Regions from separate parts of the Homo sapiens genome. Here region 2 is linked to region 1. The links come from fine-mapping of genetic effects on gene expression. A gene starts in region 1. The other region holds a variant in brackets. All regions are shown on one strand. Distances are from middle to middle.

Region 1 (4,394 bases):
CAGATGTGGAGTAGGAGGAGTACAGGGAGTCAGGAGGTTAGGGCTAGAGAGCATTTCAGTATGGTTAGAGAGTGGGCTGTAAGGAGGGTTAGGAGGAAATAAGGGGTAAGTAATAACAGCTGGCTGTGAATGCCATGCTATGCTAATATTTCATTTAATAGTCACAACAGCCACACGAGGGCAGTATTACTTAATTTCCACTCAATTCTTATGTTTCAGGTAAGAAAACTGAGACCTGGAGAAGTTGAGTCATTTGCTTGAATTACTCACTAAATAACCAGAAATTAGCCAGACCAGAATTGAAATGCAGGTCTTTCCGATTAGTCCCCACGCTGATCCAAGAGCCTCCAGGCTTCGCAGAGACCCTGCACTGGTTCCCTGCAGAAGGGGTAACTCAGGGGAAATGGGCTTAGTCACCAGAAGTCAGTCACTCTCCTCCTGGAAAGGTCTGGATGCAGATGCTGCAGACCTGGCCCATGTTATCAGACGTGATCGGAGATTGGAGTTGGAGCTTCATTGTGAAACATCTGCAGTCCTCAAGCTGAGACAACATTTCTGGCTGGGGGCGGTGGCTCATGCCTGTAATCCCAGCACTTTAGGAGGCCAAGGCGGGCAGATCACCTGAGGTCAGGAGTTCACGACTAGCCTGGCCAGCATGGTGAAACCCCATCTCTATTAAAAGTACAAAAATTAGCTGGGCATGGTGGTGGGCATCTGTAATCCCAGCTACCCGGGAGGCTGAGGCAGGAGAACTGCTTGAACCCGGGAGGCGGAGGTTGCAGTGAGCAGAGATCACACCACTGTACTCCAGCCTGGGCAACAGAGCGAGACTCCATCTCAAAAAAAAAAAAAAAAAGATTTCTGACTGAATTTAAAAATAAACAAAAACTACACCAACACCGAGCCATTCACAGCCTCTCAGGATTTGGAAAACAAAACAAAACAAAACAAAATAACACTGAGGCAAAGAGCAAGTCCCCCACACTGTAAAGGTATCAGCTCCACCATCTGGTCTCATCAGGGCCTCACCAGATGAAGCCTACCCCTAGCAAGCTGGTCTGGAGCTGCAGTTGGGCCCAAGGGCTGGGTGAGCGCCTGGGGCTGTCCACAGTGAGCAGATTCAGCAGAATTGCAGAACGTGGCCACCCGGCTGACTGAGGAAGGCCCTGTCCCGTGGGCATAAAGCCAGGATTCCTTTGGCCTTTTGCTGCTGGAGGAAAACTAGGCTGATTCAGAAGGTCTCACCACTGCTCCCTAGCACTGACTAAAGTCCGGGATGTCAGACTATGAGGTCATATATCACAAGTCTCTGTACGCCTTTGATCCCCAGTTTCCACATCAATAAAATGGCGGTAATCATATCTGACGATTGGGCGGGATTCTATGAAATAATGCGCACAAAGCTCTGGCAAAACCCTATGTAATGGAAGATGTTACTGATGACCAGCACTCAAGTCCTTCCTCCAGCCTCCGCATGGAAAGTTCCCAAGTGTCCCTAGAAGTCTGGAACACTCTAATGTTGACTGGAAAGAATAAGATGGATCTCTTTTTCTGATATGGAAGCGTCCCAAATCCAGTCATACCAGCTGGGAGGCAGTGCCCGCTAGCGGTAAAAAGCATGGATTTTGGATTTGGACAGATCCCCCTGAATTGAAGGCACAAGGGAAACCACTTGTGCCTCTGGCCAAGTTAATTTTTCTCTCCAAGCGTCAGTTTCTCCACCTGTTAAAAAGTAACGGCAAACCTACCTCACTGGAGCTTAATAAGGATTAAGTGAAATAATGCAGGTCAAATATCCGAGCCTTGATATATATAAGCCTCATGTGTATGTGTTCCCATTTATGTAAAATAACAGTGTAAGCATATTCAAAGAAAGCAATTCAGAATGTACTCTTAAACTAAGCAATGGTTATCTTGGTGTGGGGAGTTGGGGAAACCAGGGGCCTGCCTTTTTCTCTATTATATAATGCTGCAAAGTTTGATCTTTAAAAAAGGACATTAAAAAGCCCAATTGTACTTTAAACAACACAAGTTTTAATACTTGGGTAAATAAATGGCATCTAAACAAAGAAAGAAACTGAAGGCAGAGCCAGGCCCAACCCTAGGAGACTGAGGAAGCGATTCTGCTTTGCCTGCCCCCAGCTCAACCCCTGCACTAAAACCCCCCGGCCCCAGCCCCAAGGTCCAGGGGGTTGTATTCCTGGGGGCGACCCGGCGCCCCTCAAGTCTCCCTCCTCTTGCACACACACACACACAAACCAGACTCGAATCCCCGCCTCCCAAGGGAAAGTGTTTTTTAAGGTCTGTTCCAGGGCCTGCCGGGGCCAGGGACCGAGGTGGGACTGAGTGGCCGGAACTCCTCCACCTGGGAGAGTCGGTCCGGGTAGCTGCGGCCAAGCTGAGTCAGCCCGGCGGGCGGCGCACGCGGCGCCGCGTGACCCGCAGCCACGTGACCCGCGCGGGGCCGGGCCGCCGGCGCAGTCGCTGCAGCCGCCGCGGGAGGCGTCCGTGTAAGTGGGTAGCAGGGCTGGCGGGGACCTTCCTCGCGGGCCGGAGCGCGGAGCGCTGCCCCAGCCCTACGGCACTCGGGGTCGGGACCCCGGGGAGCCGCCCTCACACATTTTCCAGGAGGGATCGGAGGGGCGATGGGGTGGTAATGGGGGTGGGGGACACGCTGTACCCCACCGACGACCGCGCGGGCCACCTTCGCCTCTTTCCTTCACACTCCCACTAACCGCAGTGCTGGGGGAACAAAATGTCCTCCTTCTGGAGCGATTACCTTTTCCCTTTTGTGCTTTGGGGGAAACTGAAGACCCAGAGGGGTTCGCAAAGCAAGGTGGGCCAGTAGGAAGACCCCTCCGCTAGTCCAGAGAGAGCACACAGCTCCCCAGGCAGAGCTCATTGCCCCACCTGCTCTAGTGGCCCAGCATGATCCCATGACCTCTCTACTTCTGGAGGAAGAGTCTTGGGGTAGACGGCGGGGAGGGGGTAGGGTATCCCGTTCCGGTAGGGGCAGGGATGAGGGAGGCGGGGCTGAGCCGAGCATCTATCTGGATGGTAACAGCCAACGTAGAAAATACTAAGTTGTTTACATGCATTCTCTCATTTCATATTACCCGTCGTGAAGTCTGTGAAGTAGGTACTATTGTCCCAATTTTTACATAGGAGGAAACGGCTCAGAGAGAACTTAGGTCCTTTGACCGAGGTCCTGCAGGTGGTAAGTGAAGGAGCTGAGATTAGAACCCAGATCTGCCCCCAGTGGCGCCTCCTCGTGGTCTGTGGGTGGTGGAGACGACTGGCCTAGCCTCTTAGCTCCTCTGTGAATAGAAAGGCCTTTTTCCTGGCTCAGACAGCTTGGGAAGGGGATTGTTGCTGGGTAAGAGAAGCTTCTCCCACCACCTCCATCTCTTTCTCTGCCCCTTACCATTGATTCCTTTCTGTCATCCCCTCTCCCCCACTGCAGGACAAGATGAAGCTCATCATCCTGGAGCACTATTCTCAGGCGAGCGAGTGGGCGGCTAAATACATCAGGAACCGCATCATCCAGTTTAACCCAGGGCCAGAGAAGTACTTCACCCTGGGGCTCCCCACTGGTGCGTTCTTGGATGGAGAGGGTGCCGTGGATAAGGGTGGAGAGAGTAGGCAACAGGGGCCAGGTACACCGGCTCACTCAGCCAAGGGACTTCACGGGGGCTCTGGGGTACTGGTGCTGAGAGAGCACCTTCCTGCCCCTTCCACATACAAAGGACCCAGCTTCCCTTATGGGTTGGTTTAGTCGCTGCCTGTCCCTGCAGAATCCTGGAGCAGAAGGGATCTTGGTTGGCAGGAAGAATTTGATTTTTAGGCTACATCCTAAGTCAGCCCTGTCCACCAGGGTTTCTTAACAGAATTAAGTCCTGATACCCTAAGGCATTCATTTTATGTAATGAATTAATTTCTCTTCTCTGCATCTAGAGGGGTACCAGCTAAGTACCATCCTTGGGAGAATTGAAAAGATAGTCACTTAGGTAATTTTCTGTAAGGCTTAATTAAACACAGGACCTAAATAAAAAACAGTTCTAATTTCTTTTGGAAAAAATCAAAATGTTGCTTTTTCAGAAAGATATTTTGACCCCAGCTCCTCAAGACAAATGTCCTGATTATTTCTTTCAGAGATGGATGGGTTTGCCCTAGTGGCCCTACCTGACCCATCCATTAGCGTGTCTATGTGTGTGTGTGTGTGTTGGAGGGGTCTTCAAACTTGTTCTTTTTCCTTTTTTTTTTTTTTTTTGGTCTTCCTTGCAGTCCAGACTTTTTCTGTAAATGGCCAGTAGTAAATATGTTAGACTTCACTAGCCATATAGTCTCTGTTGCAACAACTTAACCCTTCTGTTGTTTGAAAGCAGCTATAATTA
Region 2 (4,394 bases), 22 kb after region 1:
GACAACAGGCACATACCACTGCACCCAGCAAATTTTTAGTGTTTTTTTGTTTTTTAAGAGAGACGGAGTCTTACTATGTTGCCCCGACTGGTCTCAAACTCCTGGCTTCAAGTGATCCACTCACCTCAGCCTCTCAAAGCACTGGGATTACAGGAGGGAGCCACTGCGCACGACCCATGGTACTTATCTTCTGATGAACCAGATAATTTACTTAGTGTCTCTTTCCTTCCGCCAGAATTTAAGTTCCACATGGGCAGGGAGATTATGTCTGTTTTATTTACTGCTACATTCTCACCACCTTGAAAAAGAGTAAGGCCCATTGCTGGGTATTCCATCAGTATTTGTTAAATAAGTGAGTTATTCTAGGAAATACTATAGGTTGCAAAAAGTAGAATGGTACTGAGGGTAAGACAATCGCTTTTAAAATTTACATGTATTTATGTTGTATTAGTGTGAGTTTAGCTGCTTTTCCTTTTTTGGTTTGTTTTTATAATGAAGGGAAAAAAGGAGATCCAAGCAAGGAAAAGAAGTGACTGTGTTAACTTTGTACTTAGCAACTTCAGCATCAAATCTCCCTAAGTTTCCAATGTACACAATCTTCTCCAAAGCATCCTCTGGCTCAGAGAAATGTGGGAGTCCTTGGAGTGGTAAATCTTCAGACAACCTGAGAAACTGTACAGTCTAAACGATGGGTGATGAAAGTTGATTATTACCATAAACATTGGCTAAGAATACCCCTAAAGCTCCCATAACCAGATTTCTGACCACACTCAGTCTGGCCTGATTTTTTTAGTTAAGCTAAGGTTTGGGGAGCAGGCTGGCTACTCTTACCAGCATCAGAGGGCACCATGGGGTTACAATTCCTTGGTCCTACTTAGGGGCTTTATATACAACTTAATTTCCCTACTTTGGTGGTTGAAGGTTAAGTGCCACTATCAGGAGTGACACTCTACTATGTAACAATTGCATAAGATGTCAACTGTGGTTCACATACACTTTTGAGTATTTAAAAATTTCTGATAATACTGCTGTTCCTGCCTTGATAGTACTGTTAGATACCATTCTGTCTACTAAAGTATAAAACAGACTATAATGAAATATAATGAGGAAAATTTAAATACCAGAAATTAAATCTACTTCTGTAACAAAACAACATACTCTATACCTGTCTTAACTAGTGACGATATTTTTAGAACATGGGAACTGCTGCCACCTGCTGGTGATGCTTATGGCAAAGTTAATACTAGGTAGGAGGGAGATCCAAACTCCAGTCAAAATTCTGAAATTCCCTTTCAAAGCAGACAGCCACGTGAACAACTTTATTATTATCTCCTCTAATTAACTCTCATTGCTCTTGACAGAAAAAATAAATACAAAGTATATGAAGAGATTACTAATGTAAATTAGAACTGTCTACTACTAAAAAAATGACTTTGGGCAAATGACTTTGGGCTGGGTGCGGTGGCTCACACCTGTAATCCTAGCACTTTGGGAGGCTGAGATGGGTGGATCACTTGAAGTCAGGAGTTCGAAACCAGGCTGGCCAACATGGTGAAACCCCGTCTCTACTAAAAATTAAAAAAAATAAAAAATAAAAAATTAGCTGGGTGTGGTCGTGGGCACCTGTAATCCCAGCTACTTGGGAGGCTGAGGCAGGAGAATCACTTGAACCCGGGAGGCGAAGGTTGCAGTGAGCCGAGATCAAGCCACTGCACTCCAGCCTGGGTGACAGAGCAAGACTCCGTCTCAAAAAAAAAAAAAAAAAAGACTGCTGACTAACACCACAAATCTGTCTGGGAATATGGCTTCTGATACTGAGCCTTTCTTACGTTCACCAGCTCCTCCACAGGTCAACAGGAAGGGATACATCTACTCAACAAACTTCGGGATTTAGCCAAGATGGCAGGCTAATTCTCACACCAGGGCACAGTCTAATGGGTCCAGCTGACTTCCTGACTTGATCAACTTGCCCAGTGTTTAATGATGTTTTTCAAGAAGCCGAGCAGGAAAATTACCAGAACAGGTGAACAGCCTAAAACTGCATACACAGCACTGAAGCATCCTGAGAAGTAACTGATTTAAAGCTACAAAAGACCTCAGTCAAAAAGAAATCACTGATTTGCTGAGCCTGCTAGGATTAGGTAATCTGTCTTCAAAAAGTTTTCTGGCTCCTGCCCAATCCAGATGTACCAAGGTATAATTAATGTTTATATAACAATAAAAACAGATGAGACAACTGTGACAGCTGAGAGGGGTCTAAGGAGACATGATAACTAAATATAATAACGTGGTGTCCTAGAAGGGATCCTGGAACAGAAGAAGGACATTAGGTAAAACTAAGAAAATCTGAATAAAGTATGAACTCTACTTAATAATATCAATACTACTTCATTAATATGACAAATGTGCTGCACTAATATGTTAATAAGGAAAACCAAGTGAGGGGTACATAGGAACGCTGTACAATCTTGGCACTTTTTCTGTCAATCTATATTCTAAAATAAAAAGTTTCTTTTTAAAAAATGGATGGTCTGTTAATAGGGTAGCTAAAAAAATAAAAATTATAATAATAAAAATTTAAACTAAAAGAAAAATGGATGAAACAAGATGCATCTCAACTGACAAAGGCAGGCCCTAAAGTTAGTTCGATCACAAGCTTAAAATGTCACAGAGCTATTTTGATTTAAAAAAAAAAA[T/AAT]TATGGCCAGGCGTGGTGGCTCATGCCTGTAACCCCAGCACTTTCGGAGGCTGAGGCGGGTGGATCACTAGGTCAGGAGTTCGAGACCAGCCTGGCCAACATGGTGAAACCCCATCTCTACTAAAAATACAAAAAAATTAGCTGGGCACGGTGAGCATGCCTGTAGTCCTGGCTACTTGGGAGGCTGAGGCAGGAGAATCACTTGAACCTGAGAGGTGGAGGCTGCGGTGAGCTGAGATTGTGCCACTGCACTCCAGTCTGGGCAACAGAGGGAGATTCCATCTCAAATAAATAAATAAATAAGTTATTTGATAGCTTATTTTCATTTATCAGCTCTAGACCCAAACCTTTTATATAAAAATGAAGAGACACTGACTATTCAAACTCCCCCAAAAACACCCAGGAGGCCAGGCACTGTGGCTCATGCCTGTAAATCCCAACACTTTGGCAGGCTGAGGCAGGAGCATTACTTGAGCTCAGGAGTTCACAACCTGGGCAATATAGCGAGACCTTATTTCTACTAAAAAGAAAAAAAAAAAATTAGCTGGGCATGGTGCTATGTGCCTGCAGTCGCAGCTACTCAGGAGGCTGAGGTGGGAGGATTGCTTGAGACCAGATCTCAAGGCTGCCGTGAGCTATGATCGCACCACTGCACTCCAGCCTGGGTGACAGTGAGACCCTGTCTCAAAAAGAAAAAAGGCCCATGAAATTCATACTAATTTATGGCAAATCTCAACCCACTCATAAAAAAAGGCTTTCATGAAATTAAGGTAGGTACAAAACTCTTTATTCTATCATATATTTTGCTGACACCACAACCTTCCACAAACCCATTTGTTTTACAGGGCATTTGGGGAGTTACCCAAATCTTTCATTTTACTGAGACAAAAGTACTCTACCAAAACTATACATCTTAAAATTAGCTCATAACTCATGCTTCAAAAGTATAACTTTATAAGCCCTATTTTCTTTGTTAAAATTGAGTGATGAAGACTTTGTACCTAAGAATCACTAAGGTGACCAAACAAATTTTTGAGACTAAACACCAAATACCTGTGTTGTTTTTAATATCATAAATGGGAAAAAAGGCTCCCATTTCTTTCATAAAACTGTATTATAAAGGCTTCTTTCCTACTTCTATGACATCATCAACAATGTATAACAGCTTAACATAAAATGATCTCTAGAAAATATCAAGTAGCTCACGAACTATAGAGCTTCTGAGTAGCTCTTTCTGAATAAATCTGAATTGAACTCTTTGATCACAGAAATCACTCTTCTCAGGTATATACTGTAGAACAAATCATTTTAATTTCCATTTCTTATCTTTAATTTATTCTTTAACCTCAATTTTTTTTTTTTTTTTTTTTGAGAAGGAGTCTCGCTCTGTCGCTCAGGCTGGAGTGCAGTGGCGCTATCTCGGCTCACTGCAAGCTCCACCTCCCAGGTTCATGCCATTCTCCTGCCTCAGCCTCCTGAGTAGCTGGGACTACAGGCGCCTGCCACCATGCCCAGCTAATTTTTTGTATTTTTAGTAGAGACGGGGTTTCACCGTGTTAGCCATGATGGTCTCGAACTCCTGACCTCGTGATCCGCCCGCCTAGGCCTCCCAAAGTGCTGGGATTACAGGCGTGAGCCACTGTGCCCAGCAAATTAACCTCAATTTTTACACAAAATGTCCTGAATGGAAGACCATGA

Evidence for each region. PIP is the estimated chance that this variant, and not a neighbour inherited with it, causes the effect.
Region 2: its variant is the best candidate, but not a certain one, in a credible set for the expression of GNPDA1 in whole blood (INTERVAL, PIP 0.69).

Annotation. Positions count from the first base shown.
Region 1 is chr5:142,011,111-142,015,504 of GRCh38, reverse strand. GNPDA1 (glucosamine-6-phosphate deaminase 1) reads left to right here and starts at 2,478. Exons shown (of 7, transcript NM_005471.5): 1 at 2,478-2,510; 2 at 3,464-3,593. The coding sequence starts at 3,470. RefSeq lists a cis regulatory region at 939-1,211 and silencers at 2,353-2,622, 3,294-3,353.
Region 2 is chr5:141,989,365-141,993,758 of GRCh38, reverse strand. RNF14 (ring finger protein 14) reads right to left here. Exons shown (of 9, transcript NM_004290.5): 9 at 3,467-4,394. Among named protein-coding and RNA genes, the nearest start is that of GNPDA1, 21 kb to the left of the region's middle. The variant T/AAT (reference allele first, on the strand shown) is at 2,697.